7 linked regions of the Homo sapiens genome follow. The protein of the gene in region 1 purifies or fractionates together with the protein of each later gene. This does not show direct contact. Each region holds a gene or a part of one and is shown in the gene's direction. Other genes may lie near its edges.

Evidence for each region.
Region 2: the proteins of PPP2R5A (region 1) and ARHGEF2 purify together in Homo sapiens (co-immunoprecipitation; 2 studies listed by BioGRID and IntAct, with this or other methods). This does not show direct contact.
Region 3: the proteins of PPP2R5A (region 1) and MTCL1 purify together in Homo sapiens (affinity purification with mass spectrometry; one large-scale study listed by BioGRID and IntAct). This does not show direct contact.
Region 4: the proteins of PPP2R5A (region 1) and PPP2R2D purify together in Homo sapiens (affinity purification with western blotting; one study listed by BioGRID). This does not show direct contact.
Region 5: the proteins of PPP2R5A (region 1) and CDK17 purify together in Homo sapiens (affinity purification with mass spectrometry; one large-scale study listed by BioGRID and IntAct). This does not show direct contact.
Region 6: the proteins of PPP2R5A (region 1) and VSIG1 purify together in Homo sapiens (co-immunoprecipitation; one large-scale study listed by IntAct). This does not show direct contact.
Region 7: the proteins of PPP2R5A (region 1) and SLK fractionate together in Homo sapiens (co-fractionation; one large-scale study listed by BioGRID). This does not show direct contact.

The regions. Positions count from the first base shown.
Region 1 is NC_000001.11:212,351,060-212,355,292, forward strand, and holds part of PPP2R5A (serine/threonine-protein phosphatase 2A 56 kDa regulatory subunit alpha isoform), read left to right. Parts: intron 1-1,758; exon of another isoform or gene 1,759-1,891; intron 1,892-4,233. UniProt on the Homo sapiens protein: The B regulatory subunit might modulate substrate selectivity and catalytic activity, and might also direct the localization of the catalytic enzyme to a particular subcellular compartment.
Region 2 is NC_000001.11:155,954,011-155,958,243, reverse strand, and holds part of ARHGEF2 (rho guanine nucleotide exchange factor 2), read left to right. Parts: intron 1-361; coding exon 362-531; intron 532-3,274; coding exon 3,275-3,342; intron 3,343-4,233. UniProt on the Homo sapiens protein: Activates Rho-GTPases by promoting the exchange of GDP for GTP.
Region 3 is NC_000018.10:8,830,000-8,833,594, forward strand, and holds the end of MTCL1 (microtubule cross-linking factor 1), read left to right. Parts: intron 1-1,607; coding exon 1,608-1,841; 3' UTR 1,842-2,779; downstream 2,780-3,595. UniProt on the Homo sapiens protein: Microtubule-associated factor involved in the late phase of epithelial polarization and microtubule dynamics regulation.
Region 4 is NC_000010.11:131,949,074-131,953,306, forward strand, and holds part of PPP2R2D (serine/threonine-protein phosphatase 2A 55 kDa regulatory subunit B delta isoform), read left to right. Parts: intron 1-36; coding exon of another isoform or gene 37-73; exon of another isoform or gene 74-1,331; intron 1,332-4,233. UniProt on the Homo sapiens protein: Substrate-recognition subunit of protein phosphatase 2A (PP2A) that plays a key role in cell cycle by controlling mitosis entry and exit. Involved in chromosome clustering during late mitosis by mediating dephosphorylation of MKI67.
Region 5 is NC_000012.12:96,281,791-96,286,023, reverse strand, and holds part of CDK17 (cyclin-dependent kinase 17), read left to right. Parts: intron 1-2,378; coding exon 2,379-2,421; intron 2,422-3,424; coding exon 3,425-3,515; intron 3,516-4,233. UniProt on the Homo sapiens protein: May play a role in terminally differentiated neurons. Has a Ser/Thr-phosphorylating activity for histone H1.
Region 6 is NC_000023.11:108,043,509-108,048,394, forward strand, and holds the start of VSIG1 (V-set and immunoglobulin domain-containing protein 1 isoform 2 precursor), read left to right. Parts: upstream 1-1,556; 5' UTR 1,557-1,622; coding exon 1,623-1,671; intron 1,672-4,886.
Region 7 is NC_000010.11:103,969,688-103,973,920, forward strand, and holds part of SLK (STE20-like serine/threonine-protein kinase), read left to right. Parts: intron 1-4,233. UniProt on the Homo sapiens protein: Mediates apoptosis and actin stress fiber dissolution.

The DNA.
Region 1 (4,233 bases):
CTTGAACCCTGGAGGCGGAGGTTACAGTGAGCCGAGATGACACAAAAAAAAAAACAAAAAAACAAAAAACCTTGACGATTAGGGAGAGGGATGATGGCCAGTTATTCAGCTTTTATCTGGTTTGGCTGAGTTGGGTTAATGAAAATAGGAGCAGGATGAGGAGAGAGAGTAAGATAAATACCCAGGTTAAGAAAGGAAAATATTTTCCAACTCATAAAGATCTCTCGATATAGAGATCTTGCAATTTCTAACATAGGCCATTCCAGCACCAAAATTACGGCCATATTACTTGGGTTTAAGCCTTAATACTAATTTTCTGGAAAGCAGGCATTCCTATCAAAGCTTTCTACAAATTATAAGTAGCTCAGAGCTTTTGTTAGTTTATTACTCAAGCCTGTAATCCCAGCACTTTGGGAGGCTGAGGCAGGCAGATCACCTGAGATCAGGAGTTCAAGACCAGCCTGGCCAACATGATGAAACCCCATCCCTACTAAAAATACAAAAATTAGCCGGGCGTGATGGCGGGCACCTGTAATCCCAGCTACTTGGGAGACTGAGGCAGAATTGCTTGAGGCAGGAGAATGGCTTGAACCCAGGAGGGCAGAGGTTGCAGTGAGCCGAGATCACAGCACTGCACTCCAGCCTGGGCAACAGAGTGAGACTCCGTCTAAAAAGAAAAAAGTGCAGAGTGGAAGAATTAACTAAATATTCATTACAGCTAAGTTTCCATGTAAAGAGGAAAAAAATGAAGAGTCGGCATGACTTTCAAAACTTTTATTTTTTTGGCAGTGTAAACCTTTCCTTCCACTCAAAGCTGCATTTTTATAAAACAAGCAAAACAAAACAAAACACCGTTCTTATTCCAAGAAAATCTAACTTGAGCCCCAAAATAATTTTTTTATTTTTCTTTTTTATTTTATTTTATATTTTATTTTATTATTTTATTTTTATTTTATTTTATATTTTATTTATTTTTTTGAGACAGAGACTCACTCTGTTGCCCAGGCTGGAGTGCAGTCAGTGGCACCATCTCGGCTCACTGCAACCTCCACCTCCTGGGTTCACGCAATTCTTGTTCCTTAGCCTCCTGAGTAGCTGAGATAACAGGCGCCCGATACCACGCCCGGCTAGGTTTTTTTTTGTATTTTTAGTAGAGATGGAGTTTCATCATGTTGCCCAGGCTGGTCTCAAACTCCTAAGATCAGGCAGTGTGCCTTCCTTGGCCTTCCAAAGTGCTAGGATTACAGTTGTAAGCCACTGCACCTGGCCCACATTGACATCTTTTTGGGGGCCACTAGTCAACCCAGTGTTCGTTATTCAATACTGCCCGACATTGAAATTTGTGTATGATGAGGGTAAGGAACTACATTTGGGTTTGTTTGTTTGTGTTTTGGGTTTTTTTTTTTTTCAGACAGGATCTCACCACATCACCCAGGATGGAGTGCAGTAGTACGATTGTGGCTGACGGCAGCCCTGACCTCCCAGGCTCAGGTGATCCTCCTGCCTTAGCCTCCCAAGTAGCTGGGACTACAGGCATGCACCACCATGCCCAGCTAATTTTTTTGTATTTTTGGTAAAGATGAGATGGGGTTTCACCATGATGCCCAGGCTGGTATTGATCTCTTGGGCCCAAGCCTGCCTTGGCCTCCCAAAGTGCTGGGATTAAAGGCCTGAGCCACCATGCCTGGCCTGCATTCATTTTCAATTACGCATATCAAATGATCACAAAATTTATTGGCTTAAAATAGCAAGCATTTATGGCCTTTATCAAAGCTGCAGCTGCTTCCATGTAGCTGCTGTGGTCAAAAAGAAGCCAAGAGTGACAGTTTTCCTTGATGGTCATAGTTCTGTTTGCTGTAACTGATCTGCAAGATTTTGGGAAAATACCATTCCATTGGGAGGAAAAATGACAAGCATTTGTTGCCTTAGTTGCTGTGAATCCAGAATCTGGTCATGGCTTAGGTGGGCCCTCTGCTCAGGGTCTCTTACAAAGCTGCAGTTGGAGTGTTGGCCAGAAGTTGAGTCTCATATAAAGTGTCAGATGGGGAAGGATCTGCTTCTAAGTTCACATGTATGTTGGCAGAATTCAGTTTGTCAAGTTATGTTGGACTGAGAGCCTCAGTTCCTGGCTGGCTGTTGGCCAGAGCCCACCCTCAGATCCTTGTCACCCAGGCTTCTCCAGCATGGCACCTTACTTCATCAAAGCCAAGACAGCGAGTCTACTAGTAAGACAGAAGTCACAATCTTTTGTATCTTACTCATGAAGTGACATTCTTTCACTTTTGCCACAGTCTGTTCGTTAGAAGCAAGTCACTAGGACAGCTCACACTTAAGGAGAGGGGATTACACAAGGGTGTGAGGACAGTTAACAAGCTCATGAGATCATCATAGAAGTCTGCCAACCAAAGGAGCCTGCTACATTTTTCCTTTCTAAATAGTGAGCTACCTGTCCCAGTACCACCACTGTTTCCCATGGAACTGAAAGGCCACCTTTGTCATATATTAAAATCCATATATACATGAGTATATCTAGATACTCATATATATCTTTTCTCTCCATTTCTTTGCCAATATAATCTTGTTTTAGTTGCTGATATCCATAATACAGGTTCTGTTCCATTAACTCCCCCCACCAAAAAAACAATTCTTATTTGCTTATATTTATGGATTTTAGAATAAATGTTTCTAGTTCCAAAAAATAATTCAATTGGCATTTGATTGAAATTATATTAAATTTACTTATAAATTAAGTACAGGAAAAATATCTCTGCACAATATTGAACCACCTCACTTATTTACAGTCATGTGCTGCATAATGACATTTCGTTTAATAACAGGCTACGGGCCGGGCGCTGTGGCTCAAGCCTGTAATCCTAGCACTTTGAGAGGCCGAGGCGGGTAGATCACGAGGTCAGGAGATCGAGACCATCCTGGCTAACACAGTGAAACCCCGTCTCTACTAAAAATACAAAAAATTAGCTGAGCCTGGTGGCGGGCGCCTGTAGTCCCAGCTACTCAGGAGGCTGAGGCAGGAGAATAGCATGAACCCGGGAGGCAGAGGTTGCAGTGAGCCGAGATCGTGCCACTGCACTCCAGCCTGGGTGACAGAGCGAGACTCTGTCTCAAAAATAAATAAATAAATAAAAATAACAGGCTACATATAAAATGTCAGTCCCAGACAGGCGTGGTGGCTCAGGACTGTAATCCCAGCTACTTGGGAGGCTGGGGTAGGGGGATCTCTTGAGCCTAGGGGGTTGCAGTGAACTGTGATCACACCAGTGCACCCCAGCCTGGCCGACAATGCAAGTCTGGACTGTCTCTTAAAAAATAAAAATGGAACTGGGCATGGTTGCTCATGTCTGTAATCCCAGCACTTTGGGAGGCCAAGGTAGGAGGATTGGTTGAAGCCAGGACTTTAAGACCAGCCTGGGCAACAGAGCAAGACCTCGTTTCTACAAAAAGTAAAAAATTAAAATTAGCCAGATGTGGTGGCATACACCCGTAGTCCCAGCTACTTGGGAGGCTGAGGCAGGAGGATCATTTAAGCCTAGGAGTTCAAGGTTACAATAAGCCTAGGAGTTCAAGGTTACAATGACCTCTGATCATGTCACTACACTCCAGCCTAGGCAACAGAGTGAGGCCTCATCAAAAAGAGAGAGAAATGTTGAGAGAGAGAGAGAGAGAGAGAAATGTGATTCCAAGAGAAAGAAAAATGGTGATCCCATAAGATTATAATGCTATATTTTTACTGTACCTTTCGTGTTTAGATACACAAATACTATTGTTACAACTGCCTACAGTGCCTACGGTATTCAGTACAAGAACATCCTGTACAGGTTTGTAGCCTAGGAGCAAAAGGCTACACCATACAGCCTAGGTGTGTAGTAGGCCATACCATCTAGGTTTAAGTACACCCTGTGACATTTAAATGATGAAGTTGCCTAATGACACATTTCTTAGAACGTATCCCCATCATTAAATGACATATAACTGTATTTGTAGTCTTCTATGATCTTCAGTAAAGTTTTATGCTTTTCTCCATATGTCTTAAGTATTTCTTGCAAATTTATTCTTTATGCACATTATAGTTGTTGTTGTGAAAAGTACCTTTTTATTATTCATCTGATTTTTACTGATGTTTTATAAAGGTATTGATTTTTATATATGTATTTTTTAATGTGGCCACATACTGAATTTTCCTACTCACTCTAGTAACTTGCAGGGTTTTTTTTT
Region 2 (4,233 bases), about 56 Mb from region 1:
GAGAGCTCTGGAGTCCCCCAGAGTCAAACAGCTATAATTGTTACTATTACCGTAATAATAAAAAATAAGAGCAGCTCACAGGTACTGTTACTGTGCACAGGCACTTTTACACCTGTGGGAAAAGATTATTTTCGTCCTCATTTTATAGATGATGAAAGTAAAGCTTCAAGTCAGTTAAATAATTTGTCAAGGGTTGCACACATTTCTAAGTCCCTTCTGGCTGGCACCAGTGCCTGGCTCTTAACTGGTATTGTAAGATGACTCTTCAGTCCTTTCAGTCCTCGTCCAGAAGGATTGAAGGCCTAAATATGCCAAGGGACAGGATTCCCAGGCTTAATCCTTCCTTTCCCCTGACTGGCAGGACAAGCCTTCAGTGGTATCGCTGCAGAATCTAATCGTACGAGACATTGCCAACCAGGAGAAAGGGATGTTTCTGATCAGCGCAGCCCCACCTGAGATGTACGAGGTGCACACAGCATCCCGGGATGACCGGAGCACCTGGATCCGGGTCATTCAGCAGAGCGTGCGCACGTGAGTGTCTGCCTGCCGCCTGCATGTGCTTATGACCTCAGGGTACCTGCAGCATTAGATCCCAACCATAGAACTCCCTGGGAACAGAATCCAGCATTCAGAGGTGGGGGAAGAGGTTGAGGGAGAGACAAAATGGCCCAAGACTGGAAAGGTCACCTATGTTCTTATGTCCTGTAAAGCCACATTTTATACATTGCCAACCTCAACTCCCTTTCAAATTCAGCATGAGCTGACAAGCAAGGGAATACTTTGAGCTGTCACATGGTGGCATACCTGCCAGCCAACAGTACAATTTCAGCTGCATTCACATGTTCATCTGTAGGCAGAGGGCTGTTATTTGGATTGTATTGTATTTTACATTTATTTTTCTAAAAATGAATGAAAAAGAGGATAATGAAAGCATCGATACTAGAGAGGAACAAGTCTCATAAACAGACTCAACACAATAGAAGCAAGAAGGAAATCAGTGTGTCAAAGCAGCAAATCTTTAGCTTCTATTGGACACACATTAGATTTGAGGCAGTCAACTATGTGTCTAATTGTGATGGGAAAAAACATCAAATAAAGCACAGGTAAGATGTTTAAAATGGATTCTGGAAGATTATGCCTAAAGAATGAAGTGTAAGTGTAATTCTAATTCAGATTTTTACAGGTTTTCTTTCTTTTTTTTTTTTAATTTTTTTTGAGACAGAGTCTCGCTCTCAGCTCACTGCAACCTCCACCTCCTGGATTCAAGCGATTCTCCTGCCTCAGCCTCCCAAATAGCTGGGACTACAGGTGCCCACCACGACCCCAGGCAAATTTTTTTTTTTTTTTTTTTTTTTTGGAGACAGAGTCTCTGTTGCCGGGCTGCCTCAGCCTCCTGAGTAGCTGGGACTACAGGCTCACGCCACCATGCCCAGCTAATTTTTGTATTTTTAGTAGAGACGGGGTTTTACCATGTTGGCCAGGATGGTCTTGATATCTTGACCTCGTAATCGACCCGCCTCAGCCTCCCAAAGTCCTGGGATTACAGGCATGAGCCACTGCACCCAGCCAAATTTTTGTATTTTTAGTGGAGACGGGGTTTTGCCATGTTGACCAAGCTGGTCTCGAACTCCTGATCTCAGATTTATCCGCCCACCTCAGCCTCCAAAAGAGCTGAGATTACAGGCATTAGCCACCATGCCCAGCCAAGATTTTTATAATTTTTCTTTAGCTTTCAGGGAATCAGTTCTCAACTTTATAATTTGTAAACCTTTTTTTTTTTTTAACTTCTGCACCATGGAATTTTGAAAAGGTTTTTAGAAATGCATATAAAAGTATGAAATTGCAGGCCAGGCACAGTGGCTCACGCCTGTAATCCCGGCACTTTGAGAGGCTGAGGCGGGTAGATCACTTGAGGTCAGGAGTTCAAGACCAGCCCGGCCAATATGGTGAAACCTCGTCTCTACTAAAAATACAAAAATTAGCCGGGCGTGGTGGCATAAGCTTGTAATCCCAGTTACGCGGGAAGCTGAGGCAGGAGAATCGCTTGAACCCGGGGGTGGAGGTTGCAGTGAGTCAGGATTGTGCCACTGCACTCCAGCCTAGGTGACAGAGTGAGACTCCATCTCCAAAAAAAAATTATGAAATTGCCTATTCCAAGAAAGCAGTTCAAAATAACCTGTCCTGTTGACAGATCTGTAGTGGCTTCTTTATTAATAGTATTAATATTTATAATTGTGGCCAGGCGCTGTGGCTCACACCTGGAATCCCAGCACTTTGGGAGGCTGAGACAGGCGGACCACTGGAGTTCGAGACCAGCCTGGCCAACATGGCGAAACCCTGTCTCTACTAAAAATATAAAACTTAGCCAGGCATGGTGGTGCGTGCCTGTAGTCCCAGCTGCTTGGGAGACTGAGGCAGGAGAATCACCTGAACCTGGGAGGCAGAGGTTGCAGTGAGCCAAGATCCTGTCACTGGACTCCAGCCTGGGCGAAAGTGCAAGACTCTCTCTCAAAAAAAAAATTATAATTGTGGAAATTAATAATATTAATTGTAATTGATTTGTTGAGCTTCTGTTATGTTCAAAGCACTTTAACATTTCATTTAATCCTAATGAAAAACCTATGAGGAAGATATTACCTTCATTTTTCAAATGAGGAAATAGAGAGGTTACCACCTGGTAAACAGTGGAGCCAGGATTTGCATCCTGTTTGCTTGATGCCAAAGCCTGTACTTGACCCTCTGCACTGTGCTGCCTTTCCAAGCGACCTTTGGAGAGATATATCTCAGTAAACGCAGATAATCAGTGCTAAGAAATGGGAGAAGGTCGGCCGGGCGCGGTGGCTCATGCCTGTAATCCCAGCACTTTGGGAGGCGGAGGATCACCTGAGGTCAGGAGTTTGAGACCAGCCTGGCCAACGTGACGAAACCCCATGTCTACTAAAAATACAAAAATTAGCCAGGCATGGTGGTGCGTGCCTGTAATCCTAGCTACTCAGGAGGCTGAGACAAGTGAATCACTTGAACCCAGGAGGAGGTTGTAGTGAGCTGAGATAGCGCCCTTGCACTCCAGCCTGGGTGACAGAGTAAGACTCCGTCTCAAAAAAAAAAGAAAGAAAAGGGAGAAGGTCAGGACTAAATTAAAGCTAGGGTGTGAGGCTGAGGAGTCTTATCAGAAGATGGAAGCATAAGGCATGTTTGGGAAGGAGGGAAGGCTGATTCTGGTCTATAACCTAGCTTCTGTCTCTCAATGGCATGCGACCTGTTACCCCTCCAGATGCCCATCCAGGGAGGACTTCCCCCTGATTGAGACAGAGGATGAGGCTTACCTGCGGCGAATTAAGAGTAAGTCCACCCACAAGGAGCTCCTTAGTAATTTATAATACATTCACACAATGGAATATTATGCAACTGTTAAAAAGATGAGATGGCTCTATGAGGGCTGGTGTAGATCCACAACTGAAACATATTAAGTGAAAAAAGCAAGGTTTAAAACAATGTAAAGTGTATACTACCATGTGTGTAAAAATAATATGGAAGACCAAGGTTGGGTGAGTAACTTACTTTTTCACTGTAAGGCCTTATATTAGTTAGGGTATGATTTAACTGCTATACTAAAAGACCACAAAAATCTTCTTCCTTAAAAAAGGAAGTAGATTGGCCGGGCGCGGTGGCTCACGCCTGTAATCCCAGCACTTTGGGAGGCCGAGGTGGGCGGATCACGAGGTCAGGAGATTGAGACCATCCTGGCTAACACGGTGAAACCCCGTCTCTACTAAAAAATACAAAAAAAAAATTAGTCGGGGGTGGTGGCGGGTGCCTGTAGTCCCAGCTACTCAGGAGAGTGAGGTAGGAGAATGGCATGAACCTGGGAGGCGGAGCTTGCAGTGAGCTGAGATCACGCCACTGCACTCCAGCCTGGGCAACAGAGGGAGACTCCATCTCAAAAAAAAAAAAAAAAAAAGAAGTAGATTGGCTGGATGCAGTGGCTCACGCCTTTAATCCCAGAAGGATTTGGGAGACAGGAGGATCTCTTGAGGTCAGGAGTTCGAGACCAGTCTGGGCAACAAAACATACATAGCAAGACCCTGTCTCTACAAAAAATTAAAAAAAAAAAAATAGCTAGGCATGATGGTACACACCTGTAGTCCTGGCTACTCGGGAGGCTGAGGTGGGCGGATTGTTTGAGCCCAGGAGTTCAAGGCTGTAATACACTATAATTGCACCACTGCACTC
Region 3 (3,595 bases), on another chromosome or scaffold:
GTCAGATAAACCTATGACAGCAGCTTCACCAACACACAACACACACAGAACAGATACACAATACACAACACACACACTACTTCTATAACAAGGGGAGCGCAGACACAAAACACACAGATTTCCCAAACCGTGTGTCCCAGTCAAGCACTGTGGGCTGCAGTGAGATGAGGACACAGGAGCACCTTGGGTTAGTCTGCATCTTGGTGGCTGGTGGCGCTGGTGGAGTTTTAACTGGAGAGGTATTTCTGGTTGTCACGGTACTGTTAGCATAATGCTTTGGGAACAGAAGCTTCTCCCTGTGGCCGTATGAAGTTCCAGCCACAAAAGCAGCAGGGAGCATGAAGCATAGTCTCCAGGGCCACTGTTCCTTTTCTGCTGACCCCAGAGGGAGGCAGGGAAACCGCTCGCCCCATTGCTCTTCTGGAAGCCTGTGGCTCCCACGCTGTCCTCGGGCCATGCTGTCTCTGCCGTGTTCCATCTTCTCCCGAGTGACACTGCCCATTCCGTGCAGCCGTCTGTCCTTCCCCCGCTGCTGCTCCCCTGCACCACTGGCTGGGCTGTCCTCATCCTGGTCTTTTCAGTTGCTTGTCACATCTTTTTAAATCCTCCAACTCACTTCCTTTCTTTGAGGGTCCTTGTTCTCTGTCATCCTTCCTGTGCCTTCCATTCAGTTCACCTCAAGCTTCCAGTGTCTGAGTGTCATTCCAGCCAGCGGGCTCCATGCTGGGCAACTCAGTTTTCTCATGCCACAGCTTTTTACATTTCTGTGTATCAGCAAATTCCAAATTTGGGTGTCCTGGTTTTGTAACATGTAAGGACAAGGAGCTCAACATTCTTTAAAAACAAAGTAGCTTGAGAATAAGGATTCTAGGTGATTTGCACATGGTTGAGTGTGTCTTGCATCACCTGCTCGCAGAACATTAGGATGCCTGAAACACAAAACCACCAGTACATTCTGATTCTACCTTTTTAAAATGCTGCTGCAATTGAACAGTCATTAAAGAAAACCAGACCCAAATTAAAATTTCTGCCTGCAGCATTTTTGCCATGTTGTGGGAGTTTGTTTAAGCTACTCCCAGTCAATTTCAAATAAACAGTAGCAGAGTTCGTTTAAGACGACTGCCATTGCTAACACAGCTGAATGAAATCAGAGGTCTCTTTGTGGGCTCCCAGTAGATCCAGGCCCTGTAGGACCAGTTCACTTGTCCACTGTAGCTAAATAGATCATACAAAAGGGCCAAATGAACAGATCTACCAGATAGGAATATGATGAAGTGGCCTGTGGAGACCGCTGCCACAGTCACTGTGTCATGCCTTCTGTATACCCCAGCCCAATTCTAAAGGAGCTTTGCAAGCTGACTCATCTCACAGTATTGCTGTGTTTAATCATAATTGGTCTCTTCCCATTCATGTCACTGATCATTTGTGTTGAATTCTTTATTATTTTAAGTTATTCTGCATGAGCATAGAAAGTAGTTAATATTCACGAGTTGCCTGTGGTGTATACTTCATCTCACTTGAGTCTGTTGAGAAGTGTGTTTGGGGGAATCATCCACTGGTGACACTGCCGGTCTGAGTAACCCTGTCTCCCTTTCTCGGCTCTGAAGGAACTACCTTGTTCTGCACTAGCTCCATCCCTAGAGCCCTGCTTCTCCAGGCCCGAGAGACCAGCAAACCGTCGCCCTCCGTCCCGTTGGGCCCCACATTCCCCCACTGCCTCACAGCCTCAGTCACCCGGAGACCCGACGTCCTTGGAGGAGCATGGTGGCGAGGAGCCGCCCGAGGAGCAGCCACACCGAGATGCAAGCTTGCATGGATTATCACAGTATAATTCACTGTAATTTGCATAACCACACCATCACCATGAACAAAACTCTGCCCAACAGGAGAGATCTAGTTTTCTCAAGGTCAAAGAATGTTTTTTAAAAACACAAAGCTGCTGAATGTTCAACCTGTGAAACTGAGATGTTTCTAGAATGAAACAGTAAATGTGCCTGTAATAACTTAATTTTTTTCATAGCTCAGAAAACTATTTTTGTCTCCATCTTTTTTACACACAGTATATTAAACGAAAAGGTAAATAAGGTATAAATAGATTTAAAAAATAAAAGTTTTAAAAAATGTACATTTTAAGAGATTCTGAACACCCTCGCTGTCAATACCTGACTGCCTCTGTTAAATTTGCACTGTTACATTTTGGTTCAGTTTATTTCCATGTTGAATTAGAGTGGATTAAGTTAATTTTATTTTGTCAGTGTTACTGTTTTTTACGAATTTTTTAATGCTTCAGACTGTCTGATTCAGTGAACTTTTTGTAGTGAAAAAGCCATGAAGCCAGTAGACAAGACAGATATTCTGTATGCTGGAGGGGATACAGGATGATTTTGAAAAGGTACAAAGTCCTCAGTGGGCTTAGAAAATTCACTGTATGATCCTTATATTATCCTACTTGGCTTGCACGTCTTCGGGTGCATGTATATACCGCTACTGTGTCCTCGCCATCACCTAAATGTGACTCAGTCTGTTCCACTGTAATATGTTGTGAATTTCCTTGTACTGTACTTTTATTGTTGGTCTTCTTGCATCGATGATCCAACAGCAACACCATTTTTAAATTATTGTGAAAAGATTAACTGGCAATGTACAGAGTTTACTCAAAGTTTTCTTAAGGGAAAACACTACAAAAAGTCACAAGGATACCAAATGGAAACACATGATGATGCCTCTGGGTCTGTATGAGACCGTGATGAAGTAGAAATAAAGCCCTTCTGAGATGGCAGCATGTCTCGGTCTCTCATTTCACACACCCTCCATCTTTTCCTAAGGACTCAGATGGAAAGTTTTCCATAGCTAGGGGAATGAGGGAGAGAGGAGATCATGTAAAGAGGCAACAGCTGCTAATATATCTTGCTGGGAATGCACTCTTTGGGTACGTGATCATGTTGCAGTTTTACTGTTCCCCGTAAGAGAGTCCTAGGATAGAGAGACAGCTTTATTGTTGAAAAGCCAAAACTGTGGTGTGGGCAGGGATGTGAGGAAACTGGTTACCTACAAGTCAGAGTGTGCCCGGCCTCTCTGCCCGCTCTGCTCATTAGGAGAGAGGGAGTGGCCAATAACTCTAGAAGAGGCCTTTCCATCTCTGATCCTGAGATGAGCCCGCCTCTCAGTGTTTGGTGGAGTAGAAAGAAGTGATGCTACTGAAGAGCCCAAAAAGAATGATTTCAGGCTGAAGCTTCTGGCTTTAGTATTTCATTTAGTGCTTCATTAACCCAACAATTTTCTTCTTATATAGATGAGCTGCTAATGTAATAGGCTATCCTAGCATTACCACAGCTTCATCCTTAAACTGAAATATTTTCAAAAAATAAAAACCAACAAGTGTTGGCAAGGATGTGGAGAAATTGGAACCCTTGAGCACTGTTGGTGGGAAAGTAAAATGGCCCAGCTGCTGTGGAAGACAGTATGACTTCCTCAAAAAGTTAAACATAAAATTACCATAGGATCCAGGGATTCCACTTCTGGGTATACACCCAAAAGGACCAAAAGTAGGGACTCAAACAGGTGTTTGCACACCTATGTTCATAGCAGCATTATT
Region 4 (4,233 bases), on another chromosome or scaffold:
GCGTGTTTCCAGATCTGGCTTCTACTCTGTTTGCAGACTGACCTGCCAGCCTGTAGCATCTCACGGATGTTGACTGAAGACATGAGGTTCCCGGGTTCTCATGGCACAGCTGGCAGCATGAGCCTCTCGTTGGCCTGGGTTCCCCACGGGTGGACACTTGAGGCCGTGGCTGATGCACACTGAGCTTGGAGAACCCCACTGCTTTCACAGCGGGCAGTAAACACACCTGCACTTTGACTAGAAGAGACATGACCTCATTCCTCAAGGCCGCTTGCTGGAAGCACAGCCCTGAGAAGTGGCCCAGGTGGAGAGAATGGCATTGGCAAACTCCGTGAGAACACGCATGCTGGGTAGCTGCTGCCAGCACACCCAGGTCTCTCTGGATTTCGTCACATTAAAATCATCTAAACATGAGCTCACAGGTGAAAATTACCAAGCACATACAGGAAAAGCCACCGTGAGCAAGTCAGCAGAACCACAGCAGAACTGAACCTCCGAGAAGGCAGCTGTTGAGATCCTAAGTTAAAGAAGATAAACTAAGAATGCTTGAGATATTCACAGACTAGAGGAAGGAAACAGCCTGAACCAGGAGCCACATGACCGCTAAACGTGACCTGGAGACTGGAAAGGAATCAGAGGGAACATCTAGAAATGACAAGTATGATACATGACCGCCAAACATGACGTGGAGACTGGAAAGGAGTCAGAGAACATCTAGAAATGACAAGTATGATACATGACCGCCAAACATGACGTGGAGACTGGAAAGGAGTCAGAGAACATCTAGAAATGACAAGTATGATACATGACCGCCAAACATGACGTGGAGACTGGAAAGGAGTCAGAGAACATCTAGAAATGACAAGTATGATACATGACCGCCAAACATGACGTGGAGACTGGAAAGGAGTCAGAGAACATCTAGAAATGACAAGTATGATACATGACCGCCAAACATGACGTGGAGACTGGAAAGGAGTCAGAGAACATCTAGAAATGACAAGTATGACAGATGAAACTGTGTGGGTTTAGCAGCAGGTCCATTTTGGCTAAACAGATCTTGTATTAGTGGATGGAAAGGAAAACCAGAAGAAATGCGGGCTAAAGAGCCAAACAGAAAACAAGAGACACTAGGAACCGTGGAGGCCAGGGTGAGGCACAGCACACGTTTAAACAAAGTTTGGGGGTGTGAGGCTTAAAGTGACAGTGGCCAGCAATTTTCTCTAAATTATGAAAGCCTGAATACACAGGATCGGGAGCACAGCATCCATCCATCTCATAATGAAATTGCAGGACACCAAACGCAAAGAGAATATCTTAAATGCACCCAAGGAAAAAACGCAAATTACCTCTGAGAGCGGACACCGAGACTGAGACTCGGCTTTGCCACGGCCACAGTGGGAGCCAGAAGCCGTGTGACAGATCCAGCAAGTGTGACTCCTTACTCTCCACCGCCAGCTTAGAATCAAGCCTTGAAGTAGATGCTCGTTCAAGAATCTGCTTGTGATAAAGGCATTTTCAAATGGGAAACAATGTATCACAACAGGAAACTCAGTAGAGCGAGCTGTAAAGGGAGCCTGGCCCTGCAGAAAGGGGCTGAGACAGATAGGCAGAGGAACGCAGCCTGCAGGGAAGAGCAGTGCAAACTCTGAAGCTCTGCCACCTGGACGGCCTTAGTTATCTGTGTTTGGGGGAGAAAAATTAGAGCCCTCACCAGCCCCACACAATAAATAAATAAGCTCTGAGTGTTTCTAAGCCTAAGACATCTTTGTGAGCTCTGGAAACAAGGGCTTCTTTAAGAAGGCCCCAAAAGCCCAAGGAAAACATTAAGAAATTCAACTACATTAAATTTTAAACTTCTTTATATTGAAATTAAAAGTGAAAACAAAATCCACAAAAGGATAACGAACAGAGATTAAGTATCCAGAATAGGTGCAGAATTAGTTGTCAACAAGAAGGTGGCAAACAACTCAGAAAAGAGCAAAAACCATGAATGGGGTTTCGCAGAAATGGAAAAATAAATAGAAATGCTCATCCTTCTTAGTGATCAGCAAGTAAAGCCAGAGGGACGTCCTTTCATGCCCATCAGAATGATGATGGTTTGGGGGAGAGGGTGGAGACCAGTGGTCTTACCCAGTACCCTTCTTGTGACCTCCTTGGTGACATTCAGTCGGGTTGGGAGCTTCTTGCATGTTCAGACAAGAAAACGTGCTCAGATACCTGAAATAGCAAACAACTGGAGACAGCCCACAGGTGCATCATTAGAGGAATGGACAGGTAAGTTGTTCTCTATCATAACATATACTGAAAAGCAGTGAGAATCAATTATTAGAACTACATGGATCACCTAGGTGGATCTCACAAAGATAATCCACAAAGAAAATTCAGGAGGAATGCGTACGGTGCAATGACATACAACATGTTTAAGACATACAAGACGGTTTTGTTTTAAGAATCTGTAACTATTGGCCAGGCGCAGTGGCTCACACCTGTAATCCCAGCACTTTGGGAGGCTGAGGAGGGCGGATCACGAGGTCAGGAGTTCGAGAGCAGCCTGACCAACATAGTGAAACCCCATCTCTACTAGAAATACAAAAATTAGCCGGACATGGTGGTGCATGCCTTTAATCCCACCACTCAGGAGGCTGAGGCAGGAGAATCGCTTGAACCTTGGAGGTGGAGGTTGCAGTAAGCTGAGATTGTGCCACTGCACTCCAGCCTGGGCGATAGAGTGAGACTCTGTCTCAAAAAAAAACAAAAAAAATCTGTATACAAAATATAAATGTGTGTGGGGATGACACATATGTACTCTAGCAAGTGAGGACCCCAACTGGGGATGGGATAGGAGACCATCTTTCTTTCCAGAGTGGCAACACAGTGCAGGGGGGTCCCTGTCTTAGCAGTGACTTGCTGGTGTGCAGAGGGGTCACTCTCTTAGCAGTGACTTGCGGGTGTGCAGGGGGTTCACCACCTTACCAGTGACTTGCAGGGGGTCCCTGTCTTAACAGTGACTTGCGGGTGTGCAGGGGGGTTCGCTGTCTTAGCAGTGACTTGCGGGTGTGCGGGGGGGTTCACTGTCTTAGCAGTGACTTGCGGGTGTGCAGGGGGTTTCACTGTCTTAGCAGTGACTTGCGGGTGTGCGGGGGGGTTCACTGTCTTAGCAGTGACTTGGGGGGTCCCTGTCTTAGCAGTGACTTGCGGGTGTGCGGGGGTTCACTGTCTTAGTGACTTGCGGGTGTGCGGGGGGTTCACTGTCTTAGTGATTTGCATGTGTGGGGGGGGTTCACTGTCTTAGTGACTTGCGGGTGTGCGGGGGTTCACTGTCTTAGTGACTTGCGGGTGTGCGGGGGTTCACTGTCTTAGCAGTGACTTGTGGGTGTGCGGGGGTTCACTGTCTTAGTGACTTGGTGTGCGGGGGGGTTCACTGTCTTAGTGACTTGTGGGTGTGCGGGTGGTTCACTGTCTTAGTGACTTGCGGGTGTGCGGGGGGTTCACTAGTGACTTGCGGGTGTGCGGGGGGTTCACTGTCTTAGTGACTTGCGGGTGTGCGGGGGGTTCACTGTCTTAGTGACTTGCGGGTGTGCGGGGGGGTTCACTTAGTGACTTTCGGGTGTGTGGGGGTTCACTGTCTTAGTGACTTGCGGGTGTGCGGGGTTCACTGTCTTAGTGACTTGCGGGTGTGCGGGGGGTTCACTGTCTTAGTGACTTGCGGGTGTGCAGGGGGTTCACTTAGCAGTGACTTGCGGGTGTGTGTGTGGGGTTCACTGTCTTAGCAGTGACTTGCGGGGGGGGTCCCTGTCTTATCAGTGACTTGCGGGTGTGTGTGGGGGGTTCACTGTCTTAGCAGTGACTTGCGGGGGGGGTCCCTGTCTTATCAGTGACTTGCGAGTGTGCGGGGGTTCACTGTCTTAGTGACTTGCGGGTGTGCAGGGGGTTCACTGTCTTAGTGACTTGCGGGTGTGCAGGGGGTTTCACTGTCTTAGCAGTGACTTGCGGGTGTGTGTGGGAGGTTCACTGTCTTAGCAGTGACTTGCGGGGGTTCCCTGTCTTAGCAGTGACTTGCAGGTTTGCGGGGGTTCACTGTCTTAGTGACTTGCGGGTGTGCGGGGGGTTTCACTGTCTTAGCAGTGACTTGCGGTTGTGTGTGGGGGGGTTCACTGTCTTAGCAGTGACTTGCGGGGGGGTCCCTGTCTTAGCAGTGACTTGCAGGTATGCGGGGGTTCACTGTCTTAG
Region 5 (4,233 bases), on another chromosome or scaffold:
GAAAGGGGGGAAAACACATGATTCTTTTCAATCTTTTGAAGGATTAGCCACAGTAAGGATTCAGGAAAAAATACATAATACACATAACCCTTACGTATTTTAGGATCTTATTTAATTTTGAACTGTATATGTTTTAGAATTCTAGAGTTTATGTAGTTACTTTTCCCAGAAAGAAGACATTGATTAATGCCTTATTCCGTACCACAGAGATTATGATGAAATTCCTGTTTTGCTTTCTACAGAATTATTCTGTATTTACTTAACAAAAACCTAAGAAAGGGTTATGTAAGTAAAATCTTGACTCTATAACACAAGGTAACCTATCAGTATTTTGACCAGTGTTAATGATGTAATTCATATTTGAAGAATATAAACTCTGTCCAATTCCTTAGCAAAATGTAACATCTAAATGTCAGCCATTCATTTAAGTTTCTTCTTAGACCTACCCCAAGATCAATCCAAGGCTCCCAATAAAATTTGAGTCAGAACATTTTTACTTGTAGAATGTATTACATTTTCAGGAGATAACATAGAATAACCCCTTTGACTGCATTTTCCATCTCCCTGCCCCCAACCCCCCCAAATTTTGAAAGTCACCAAGATACCAAATAAGGACATCATTTATTTTAACCCAAAGCCATTCACATTGCTCACAACATAACACACTTGTTATGCTTCCTTTTATTTTCAAGCTAAGGAAGGAAGAGCAAAACAGTTATGACACCAAAAATATTTTTAAAGTATTTATGTGAGTTGGTACTCTTATTGTTACTATAGCAACTAATACCATTCTAACTAGATTTTCTTAGGAAGAATAATAATACTTGCTGGGCTTTTTTTGCATGTCTCTCCCAAGTAGCATAAATTCTATTTTTGTCCTTTAATTATTTTTTGGTAATGTTCAGTGTAGAAGGTTGAAGCTTTTCTTTGAAGCAGAGTCTCCATGACTTAGTGCCTAGTTTGTGCCCAGGGAACTCTGGATATGTGCTAGAATGGCAAACTACATAGAATGTCTAGACTGCAGCATCCACAGGACCCACTTGAGAGCACTTGGAAAAAAACGTTACCTTATTCATAATTGTACTTCTACCAGTGAAAGGCAGTGTAAGATAGAACCTGTTATTTCTGATCAAGAGATTATTCCATTAAGATAATCCCAGGCCGGGCACGGTGATTCACGCCTGTAATCCCAGCACTTTAGGGGGGCCAAGGCAGGCGGATCACCTGAGGTTGGGAGTTTGAGACCAGCCTGACCAACATGGAGAAACCCTGTCTACTAAAAATACAAAAAATTAGCCGGACGTGGTGGTGCATGCCTGTAATCCTAGCTACTCGGGAGGCTGAGGCAGGAGAATCACGTGAACCCAGGAGGTAGAGAGGTTGCAGTGAGCCGGGATCGCACCTTTGCACTCCAGCCTAGGCAACAAGAGCGAAACACCATCTCAAAAAAAAAAAAAAGATAATCCCTAACCCTACTACCCCTAGTTATACTAATTTCATCTTTATTATGTCATTAGTTTTATATCCCTTATTGATGAATTTTTTTTTTTTTTTTTTTTTTGGGAGACAGAGTCTCGCTCTTCCGCCCAGGCCAGACTGCAGTGGTGCTATCTCAGGTCACTGCAAGCCCCACCTCCCGGGTTCACGCCATTCTCCTGCCTCAGCCTCCCGAGTAGCTGGGACTACAGGCGCCTGCCCCTGCGCCTGGCTAATTTTTAGTAGAGACGGGGTTTCACTATGTTAGCCAGGATGGTCTCGATCTCCTGACCTCGTGATCCACCCGCCTCGGCCTCCCAAAGTGCTGGGATTACAGGCGTGAGCCACTGCACCTGGCCACCATTGATGAAGTTTTATGAAGTTATTGTAGCATATTTAAATTGAACTCAATACCTTCTAGTACCCGGTGCTAAGCAGACAACTCTAAAAATTTGCTGAATAGCTCATTTCTGTGTTTGTCTTGAACAACAGTGATACATTTTGGGGTCACTTGTCTCTGTTTTCACCTATATAATAGGAAAATGATGCTCTTATATACTTGCGTTTAGTGAAAGACTGCGAAAAGTGATACAATATGTAAGCTTTCTTAATATTGAAGTTTCTTTGTTTTGAGACAGCATGGTGATTTTTAAAATTCTTTAATTTGTTCTTGGATATTGAAAATTCAAATTGAAGCCAAGTTATTTATGGCTTATCCTTAAACAAATAGCAAGGCCAGTCTTTTAAGACTAAAACAGATTTGTGTCTATTTGAAGACAACAAGAGTGACTATTTTAGGGCATTTAAATTTAGCAGATTAAAACACTTAGAAAATAGTTTTATCTGAAAAGTTTTATCAGCTAAGAGAGCATAAATTTTTACTTGTTCTTTGTTGTTTCTAGGTTAGACTCTGAAGGAATTGAGTTGATAACAAAATTTCTTCAGGTAAGTCAGTTCTTACAGTAATTGTTAAATAGGTTGTTAAGCCTCAGCTTCTTCATGTGTAGAATGGGCTCAGTAGTACTTCCTCGGTATTGTTAATGACAAATAAAATTATCTATGCTTAAGGCACATGTTTAAGTTAAAAAAAAAAAAAAAAACATGGTTTCTCCTAATGTGTCTGGGTCTCTTGTCACCTACAACAGTCTGAGGTAGTTGGTTACTGGCATTGATCAGCTGTGTCAAGGCCACATTCTCTGCAATTGATGCTCTCTATGCTCTCTTATGTTCTCTTTTCCTTATACGTACAGCCTTTGGAGGATGCTCTGCCTCCAAATGCCATTCATATTTCCCTCCAAAGCAGGAATAAGGGGGGACGATAAGGGTAGTACCAGCCACATTAGTCCTCTTGAAACTTGGAAGCAAAAGCTTTACAGAAACCCCTACAAGGTTTCTTTCCAAGTCTTATTGGCCAGAACATTAATTGTAGGAAAGACTGGGAATTGGGGAGCAGAATTGTCATAATTAGCCAAAATTTAAAACAGTTATGATTCATGATTCATCTATCAGAGTTGATGGACACCTTGAACAAACCTAGGTTGTATCATCAAAAAAAAAAGGGAAATGAGTATTGGATAGGTCGTTAAGAATGACTGCCATAAAAATACTGGGTATATGTCCACCAGTCCTTTGGTGTTCATGAAGAGAAGTAACTACACAGGTCAAATATTTTAATTTTTCTTTGCTTCAGAAAATACAAGCAATGTAAATTCTTGTTTAAGATCCAGCCTTATCTTAGAAATGTGGAACTGAGATGTTATTACACAATCTCAGCAGCGACTCAAATTAGAGTATAACTGGAGTATTCCAAATTGTTGATTGAAAAATAGTCATCATATTAAATAATCAAGATTTTTTTTAAGTAGCTCTAAATGCTAATTTGCCCATCTCCTACTTTTTGCAGTAATTAGAGAAAAAGCTAATGAAGCAGTTCTTTGCTTTTTCACAGTATGAATCTAAGAAAAGGGTTTCAGCTGAAGAGGCCATGAAACATGTGTACTTTCGAAGTCTGGGACCAAGAATACATGCTTTACCAGAAAGTAAGAGAAATCCTAAAGTGTTTTCCCTGCTTTATTTTTATTTGTCCAAGGTTAGGGTCTGGGGTGATTGGGGAGATGGCTATTGATTTTTAAGCCTAAGATTCTAGTCTTCTCTATAGTTAGATTAGAATTTCTTGAAGGGAGGTGTGTGTCTTATTTCCCTATGATTCAGTTATTTCTTGTAACACTGAGCACATTGTCACTCCTCTGTAGGAAACCAATAGTACTTAGGCAAGGATCATTAATCTTATTGGACTTTAGTTGAAACATGCCATCTGATGACAGGCATTGTCCCTAGGCCCAATCTAGCTTCGATTTAGCGTTGTTAAAAGTGAATTTCAAACAAAAACTAATGAAGCATAACCGAAACATAAATTGTTTTCTTGTGAAAATACATTTTTTCTTAAGATACAAAGATGATTTTCCTTTATTGTGGTCACACTGACTTTACTATCCCCATGACAGCAGTGAGCATATTGTCAAAGTCACTGTAATAGCAGATTTCCCATGCCTGAATAACATTGATTTTACTCTTAACATTCTATTTTTAGATTACCACAGTATTTTACTTTAAAATAGAGTAAGGTGAGTGGGGAATTAGAAGAATGTTTGGGAACTAAGCTGCCAAAAGCTTTCATTAATTTCCTATTCTCATTTATTAGACAATATTGATTCATCAAAGCTTGTGTAGCAGTCAGTGACAAAGCTAATTGGAATA
Region 6 (4,886 bases), on another chromosome or scaffold:
TTTAAGTAAAATGGAAATTTATGCTAGGGTGGTATGTCGGTTCATTGAAATTCTCACATAGGACAGTATGACTGATCTATGCTAAGAATATACTTGGCTAGTAAGAGGAGGAAGAAGAAAACTCTAGTGATGGAAATCACCTGGAGCCAACGTTTGGCATCAGACATGAGCATGGACAGGATAGGCTGCAAGGAGGAATCAGGCATGATGGAAGCAAAATGGCTTTCTAAGAAGCAGTGGGAGATTGGAATGGCTAAAGTAAGATGGGGTCAAACATTTCCTGTAAATTAAAGACAGGAACATAAAACATATCACTTGAAATTTGTACACATTTCATGTGACTGAACACTTTGAGGCAATAAATCTTGACATACTTTTTCAGGGGCATGAGTTAATGTGGCTAAAGTTCAGATGAGGTGAGGATCAGATATTGGAAGAATGGGAATCCATATTAAGGACTTTGGATTTGATGAAAGAGTCCATTTATGGTGTTACTGGAAATATTTCACTAGGGCTGGAACATTGGCCTGCGGCTGGCACACAGGATGAAGGTGGAATAAGTCAGGGAGACCACTTAGGAAGCTGCTATGATAGGCCAAAGTGGGAAGCTGAGTACCTGGACCAAGATGGAAGCAGCAGATTGGAGAAAGAACACATCTGAAAGTCGCTGTGGAGATGGAAATGATAGGACTTAGAAATCACATGGGAAGAGCCAGAGAAAGTCCTTAGGTTTCTCCGGGTAACTTAAGCATAATAGGAACACTATTAGAAGTTCATGTTCCCATGAAAGTTCCTTACCTGTGGAGCCTCCCATGCCCTCCTGGTGAACCTCCATTTCTAAGGAAACCCTATAGCATTTACTGAGTATCTTAATTCTCCAAAAAATCAGACTTCTCCAAAGAAAGTCTTTAAGCATGTATTCACTAACTTGATTTTGCAAAATTACGTTAGCAAATACGTGCTATAAGGTTTCTAACCCGACAGACAAAAGCATGTAAATCATTTTACTGCTAGTTTTGGTGGAGGGTAGTGACAACTGCCAGTGTTTCAAAAAAGAGTAACATATCCAGAGTTTGTTCACACAGAAATGAATGCTTTTTAGCTTCATAACCCCTGTGCCCTTCCCGTGAGCCCCATCTCCCCAGGAAACGATATAGTACCAATTTACTAACTTAATTTGTAAAAGGAGGTTAGTGAATCAATTCTGTAAGACTCATGGAAATATTTGAAATTAATTAGCCTTGTCAGCTTTTATTTGCATAGGCTCTCTTCCAACCATATCCCCCAGCCCAAGTACAACGTTTTAGTAAGATTGATTTTAAACAATGAGACTTAGAGAATCTGTGTACAAGGAGCTTGAATAATTTAAATGCGTGGGTTTATTATTAACACAGTAGCAAATATATCAAGGAAACACGCCCCATGAAAAGTGTTTCAAAGAAACACAAATCTGTACTGAAAAAAGTCTATACGCAATAAGTAAGCCCAAAGAGGCATGTTTGCTTGGCGATGCCCAGCAGATAAGCCAGGCAAACCTCGGTGTGATCGAAGAAGCCAATTTGAGACTCAGCCTAGTCCAGGCAAGCTACTGGCACCTGCTGCTCTCAACTAACCTCCACACAATGGTGTTCGCATTTTGGAAGGTCTTTCTGATCCTAAGCTGCCTTGCAGGTAAGGAAAGGATCTCCAAACCACCAAATATAATTGGAAACAGAGTTTCCTTTTAAATAAAAATTCCACATTTTTACATAGAATTTTCATCTCCTGTACTTCAAATGAATTGTGATTAGTATGATGAGTTAATTTTCAGAACTCTTGCTTAGCAAACATATGCCATGCTGATATATTAGGGGTGTAAGCCCATAATATTATTGTTTTATGGAGCTTCTGAATGAAAATTTTCTCAGAAAAAAATATAGTTTATTACTTTACTTACTTTGAAAAGTGAAAAAAATGAATTTACTCAGAAACCAAACTTTGTGCTAGGGATAATTTTGTCTCTGTTTTACTTACTTTAGTGTTTCCTTTAAGCTCAGTGATTGACTTGCTCTAGCAGGCAGAGCCTGGGTTGGAGGGCCTGCCCTGGCTTACATATGGGAAGAACAGAAATTTACTGAGTACTTTACTGTCTAATATTTCTTAAGGAGTTGTGGTTTTCCAATCCTAAGACTGTATTTTGCAAAATATGTGAGTGATTTATGGTGCACAACATGGGTGATTTTAGGTATCTGAACAGAAGAAAATCAATTTTGGAATCAAAATACTGATGTTAGTTAGATCCAGGAGAGATCATTAATTCCAAAAATCCCTTGGGTAGTTTTCAAATATCAGATACATTTTGCATCTGTTCTTATAAGTTAGGTCCATAGTAAATACAATAATATTGTTTATCCAAAAACAGGATTTTCAAGCCATTAGTAATATTAGGCAGTGGTTAGAATGAGGTTTACTAGGCGTATTAATGACATAAGAAAATACCCACGATAAAATATTAAGTGAAAAAGCAGGATGCACACATATGCCTAGAATAAATTACTAGAAGGTTATATACCGAAGTGCTCATGGTGGTTGCCTCTGGGTGATGGGATTATAGATGATTTTAATTTTATTTCCCAGCTTTTCATACTTCCTGGGTTTTCTACGAAGAACATTATGCTATTTTTATAATTAGAAAAAAGTGTTACTTTTCAAAGTGATCTCATGTTTAGAAATAGTTCTTTAAATGTTCATTACTAAATGTTTAAGCATAGATGTTTTATGGAGTTAAACATCACCAGAAGGCAATACTCCATTTGTCCAGTGACCTAACTAGGCCCTAGAGCTGGAAACACATGTTCCTATTTTCCCTTCTCCCCAGGCATATTCATTTAAATGTAACTTTAGATATGGAAGTTTTGTCTCTTCTTAAAGGGTTTCCAGTCATTAGCCAGTTGGGTCGACCCCTGGGCCTTCTGCATCAGCCCTCTAAGATCATACCTGTTTCCCTATGTGAAGCCTTGCCCTGGCCCATACTAGGCACAGGGTTTGGAACGGTTGTTAAGAACAGTTTTTTTTTTTTTTAACTGTACCTAACATACAAGTAATTTTTACTGATTATAAATGTAATGCATGGTCATTGTAGAAAGGTTGGAAATATGGAAATTTAAAATAAAATAAAAATCATCTGCAATTTTACCACTCAGATTTGGGTGAATTATTATTCTTTTATTTGCAGGTGTATATATTACATTTTAAAAATTGGGTTTATTCCTTGTATACTTTTTTATTGTTTAAAAAAATTGTTTAGCATCATGTCAGGATTTTATTTTATTGTGACTTTTAGAACAAGACCAATAAATACTTCAGAGTGTGTTTCCTAAGTTACTATATAACTGATTTTGTTGGTATATAGTGTACACTATATATCTACACACATATTATCTAGTTGGCCCAAAGCAGTAGTGTCAGTACAGCAAATTGTGGTATGCTCTATTGTCGTTTGCTGTGCTTACATATGTATTGAAGTCAGAGAAAGGATCACTTTAGTAATCTACACCTGTCATTAGCAGTGTTCATCAGTTGATCTGGACAACTGATAGTGTTTCCATCAATGTGCAATTTGATGTTCTTCCTGGACTTGTTTTGGAGAGAATGTCACTTTTTGGTGTTAAGCGTGGTGCCTAACACATAGTGGATGCATAGTAAATGTTTGTTGAAAGAATGAATTACTTTCCCAAATTCCAAACATCCAGACATCATTTTCACATACATATTTAAAATTGATTTTGATATAACTAAACAGGTCAGATTTTGCTTAAATCAAAATATTTTCAATGACTTCTTAGGAATTCTTAGGTTAAATTCTAATTCAGGAAAACGAGTTTTAATCAAACTTCTGCAAAAAATTTATGCATATCATTTTAGGTATTTGAAATATGTATTAGTCACCTCTTAGAAAGATATGTTAATGTGGGTTTCATTTTCTGGAGGTATATGCTATGCATTTTAAAGGAGTAATATATTTGAACTTTGAGTTTGCACTCAAATCCAAAAAAGTGAGTGATCATTTGATTATATTATTTCCTAAGTCAAAATGAATCTATTATATATGAAGTTGCTGGAAATTAAATCACTTCAAATCTATCAGATTAAATATGAATATTTGGGGGATATTTTGCTGTGGTACATTAGGAGGATAATAATCCTTCTATAAGCAAAATGTTTGCCACCTTGTAGGCATTAAATGAATGAACAATCACCACCAAAATACAAGACATTCTCTCTCTCTCTCTCTCTCTCTCTCTATATATATATATATATACATATATATATACATATATATACACATATATATATACATATATATATACACATATATATATACACATATATATATATACACACATATATATATATACACATATATATATACACATATATATATATACACATATATATATATATATACACACACATATATATATATATATATATATATATATATATATATATATACACATATATATATTCTTTTGAGACGAAGTTAAGTCTTGTTGCCCAGGCTGGAGTGCAATGGCACGATCTCGGCCCACCGCAACTTCCGCCTTCCGGGTTCAAGTGATTCTACTGCCTCAGCCTCCTGAGTAGCTGGGATTACAGGCATGCACCACCACGCCCGGCTAATTTTGTATTTTTGGTAGAGACAGGGTTTCTCCATGTTGGTCAGGCTGGTCTTGAACTCCCAACCTCAGGCGACCCGCCCACCTCAGCCTCCCAAAGTGTTGGGATTACAGGCGTGAGCCACTGCGCCCAGCCTAAAAATATTTTTAAATGTTGATTAAGTGTGTACATCTTGGATTATTTTTCTTTAATAATAAGCACTTTTTTAATTATTATTATACTTTAAG
Region 7 (4,233 bases), on another chromosome or scaffold:
TTGTAGTGGGAAGATCACTCCTGGGAATCAAGAGTTGTGTTTTAGTGCTGGCTGTCACAAACCAGCGTTGTAATCCTGGACAAAACACTTAACTTCTCTGGACCTCCGTTTTCTTAGCCATAATATTAACTTTCTTAGGAGTTTAGATTCTTTCACCCATTAAAGTTCTGTGAGTATGTAATTAGCCTGGAAAGGCAAAAATAAATGCTCAAGGCACCTAGAATCTTGTAGTTAGAAGGTGGTAGGTGATTATGGGCAGTTTTCATGGTGTAAATAAGTTTTATCGAATATAAACAGCTTAGTAGTAAGAGCACTGGCTCTGGAGTTGGAATATAACTTAGCTCTCTCACTCAATAGCAGCATATGACCTTGAGCAAGTTTCTTATTTGTCCTGTGCCTAACTTTGCTCATCCATAAGACATCCTCAGTGTGAGGATTGAAAAAGATAATATAAGGCACATGGAAAGGGCTCAGTAAATGGTAGAAATTACTGTTATTACATTTAGAGCTCATAGATGCAAACTTTGGGATGAGATAGGGAAAGGAACCAAGAAGATAATAAACCATTTTGTTGGTTTCTAATGGCATGGGCAGACTGTGTGGAGATACTAAAGCCCTGTGTTATTCTTTCATGACACTTTCTGCAAAATGTGATCTATCTTCCTGTACTGAGACATTAATTGAAAAATTTCTGAAGAACAAGAGTCTTATTTCATGTAGTTATTTGAGCACTATAAAATTGTGTCAAGGAGAATTTCTGTGATCTTGATGACTGTATTTTAGTATGATATTTGAAGAGCACGGGCTGGCACTATTTTTTCTTTTTTCATTTCACTACTCTCTGCTTCTAAGGAGTAGGGTATGAGTTTTTTAAAAAATAAAATTTGAAATTAAAACTTATCTGTCTTCTTATGGCCTCTTTTTTCTAAAAGTTTTTGTTTTTCAAGATTCCATAGAAATTGAGGATTTATAAACTTCCTTATATTTGGAAGAAAAAGCTATGGAACCTTAACATAGTACGTAGTAGTATGTAGTAGAAAACTGTTTATAAACTTGATTCTAACTATCATTTGCTTACAGAAATTAGTAACTGTTACAAAGATTATATTGTAAATAGAGATGAGGTTGAGTATCCCATTTCCCAAATGCTTGGGACCAGAAGTGTTTTGGATTTTGGAATTTTTTGGATTTTGGAATATTTGCATTATACTTAGTTATTGAACATCTGAAATTGAAAATGCTCTAGTGATCATTTCCTTTGAACATCATGTCATGTTAGCACTCAGAAAGTTTCAGATTTTGGAGCATTTCAGATTAGATTTTCAGATTTGGGATGTGTAACCTATAGGTAATCATGTTGTGTATTTAGTCTGAGTCATTCTTCCATCGTGTACTTGTTGTATTCCTTCCACTCAGTCCAGCACTGTACACATTTAACAGTTACTTCCTTGCCTGAAAAAGCTTCACTACTTTAAATTTATTTTCTCTTTTAAAAATAGTATTATTTGACATATAAATGAAGATATGTAATATCCTTCACAATATTTTATCTTTGGGTTTCTCTTTTTTTGTTGTTGTTGTTTTGTTTGTGTTTTGTTTTGTTTTGAGATGGAGTCCCTCTCTGTCGCCCAGGCTGCAGTGCTGTGGCGCAATCTCGGCTCACTGCAACCTCCGCCTCCCAGGTTCAAGCAATTCTCCTGCCTCAGCCTCCGGAGTAGTTGGGATTACAGGCACGCACCACCGTGCCGGGCTAATTTTTTGTATTTTTAGTAGAGACGGGGTTTCACCATGTTTGCCAGGGTGGTCTTTCCTGACCTCAGGTGATCCGCCTGCCTTGGCCTCCCAAAGTGTTGGGATTAGAGGCATGAGCCACTGCCCCTCACCCCCTGCTGGATTTCTCTTGTTTTTAACAGAAAAAAAAGAATGACATAAGATTATGAATTGAATTGCATTTCTAGAAAGCTATTTTATCTATTAAACCAGTTGAAACTAAACTCTTGGCTGTGTGCTGGATGAAAGTAGTTTTTATATGACAACTGATGGCTGTGTGCCTTTTAAAAAATAGTAAAATATATAATCTTTGTATTAAAAAGTATGGAAACATATACATTTAGCAGATAATAAAGTGAATTATTATTAACAACTGTCAGTGTCAAGGAATTCTGCTAACATCCGAGAATCCCTCTTGCCTCCTTTCTGTATCTAATATCTTCTCTCTCCCTAAAGGAAACCACTATCCTATCTTTAAGTTATTCATTTATTTGCTTTTCTTAATCATTTACTATCTAGGATTATATCCCTAAATGTTATAAATTTAGTTTTGTATGCACTTGAACTTTATATGAATGGAATCATATTGAACATATTCTTTTGTGTCTTGCCTCTTTCAAAGTCAGTATTGTGTTTGTGAGGTTCATCTTTATCACATAGAGCTGTAGTTCTTTTTCGTTGTAGCATTGTATTCTATTATATGATGATATCACCAATTATTTACTATTGTACAATTAATGGATATATTGGTTGCTTCCAGTTTTTGGCTCTTACACAAAACGGTAGTTGCACATATACATGAGTTTCACTAAGAGTTAATCCAGGAATGGAATTGCTAGGTTATAGGGTAGTGTATCTTTAATTTTACCAGATGATGCCAAACTAATTATACAAGTTTACATTCCCACCAGCAGTTGAAGAATTTCCTTGCCCTGCCAGGCGCGGTGGCTCATGCCTGTATTCCCAGCACTTTGGGAGGCCGAGGCGGGCGGATCACGAAGTCAGGAGATCGAGACCATCCTGGCTAACACGGTGAAACCCCGTCTCTACTAAAAATACAAAAAATTAGCCGGGCGTGGTGGCAGGAGCCTGTAGTCCCAGCTACTCGGGAGGCTGAGGCAGGAGAATGGCGTGAACCCGGGAGGAGGAGCTTGCAGTGAGCCGGGATCGCACCACTGCACTCCAGCCTGGGCGAAAGAGCAAGACTCCGTCTCAAAAAAAAAAAAAAATTTCCTTGCTCTGCATCTTTGCTAACATTTAATATTGTCAGAATTTTAAAGTTTTGACAGGCTGATAATGTGTTACATTTCTCATTGTGCATTTAATTCACCTTTCACAGATTACTAAAAGTAATTCTTTTAATATGTTTTTGGTAATTTGAATTTCTTCTTTTGTGTTCAAGTCTCTTATCCATTTTTCTCTTGAAGTCTTTGTTTGTATGTTGATTGTGTGTGTGTACAATATATGTGTTTTGAATTTTAACCATTTGCTGGTGATAGTTATTGCTAATATAGTCTCATTCTGAGACCTGTCTTTTCATTCTCACTGTAGTGTCTTTTTATGAATTCTTTAACATGGTCCAATTTGTTAGTTTTTTCCTTTACAGTTGATGCTTTTTGTGTTATGTTTAAGACATTTCTTCCTAATGTGTGATCATGAAGATAATCTTCTATATTATCTTCTAAAAGCTTTATGATTTTGCTTTTCTTTAACAATTAGATCTATAATCTACCTAGAATAGATGTTTGTAAATGGTATGAGGTAGGGGTCCAGTTTCATTTTTTTCCCCATATGGATACACAATTGTCCCAGAACTATTTGCTGGGAAGAAAAATAATTCCCCACTGCTCTGCAGTGCCCTGTTATGTAGCATGTGTCTGTTTCTGCATTCTCCGTTCTCTTCATTGATCTATTTGTCTATTCCTATACCAGTATCCCACTGTCTTAATTAGGAAAGAATTAAAATAAATTTCTGCTGCTTCTTCAACATAGTTTAGTAGTATTGTTGGCCCTTAGGGCTTCTATGTACATTTTCCAGTTAGCCTGGTTGAGTGCCACAAAAAATCTGTGTTTTTTTGGAGAGATTTCATTGAATTTATAAATCAGTTTTGGAAAAATTAACCTCTCTTTGATATTGAGTCTTCCCACCTGTGCATGTTTTATCTCTGTTTAGGTCTTTTTTACTATCTTAATAATGAGTTACAGTTTTTTTCCCTAGAAGTGGGAACACAAACTACTTCAAGGATGTTTTAAATACTTTGTTTTTCCTGTTAGAATTTCCTCCTTGTTTTTGTTGTGTACAACCTTTAGTAGCCTTCTGAGAAAGGATCCATGGAAAACATATTTTTTAAGAACTTGCCTGTCTAAATATGTCTTTATTATAAGGTCACAACTTAATATATATAATTCTAGTTCAAAAGTAAGTTTTTAAAGAATTTTTAAGATTTAGAATTTGTTAGTTTT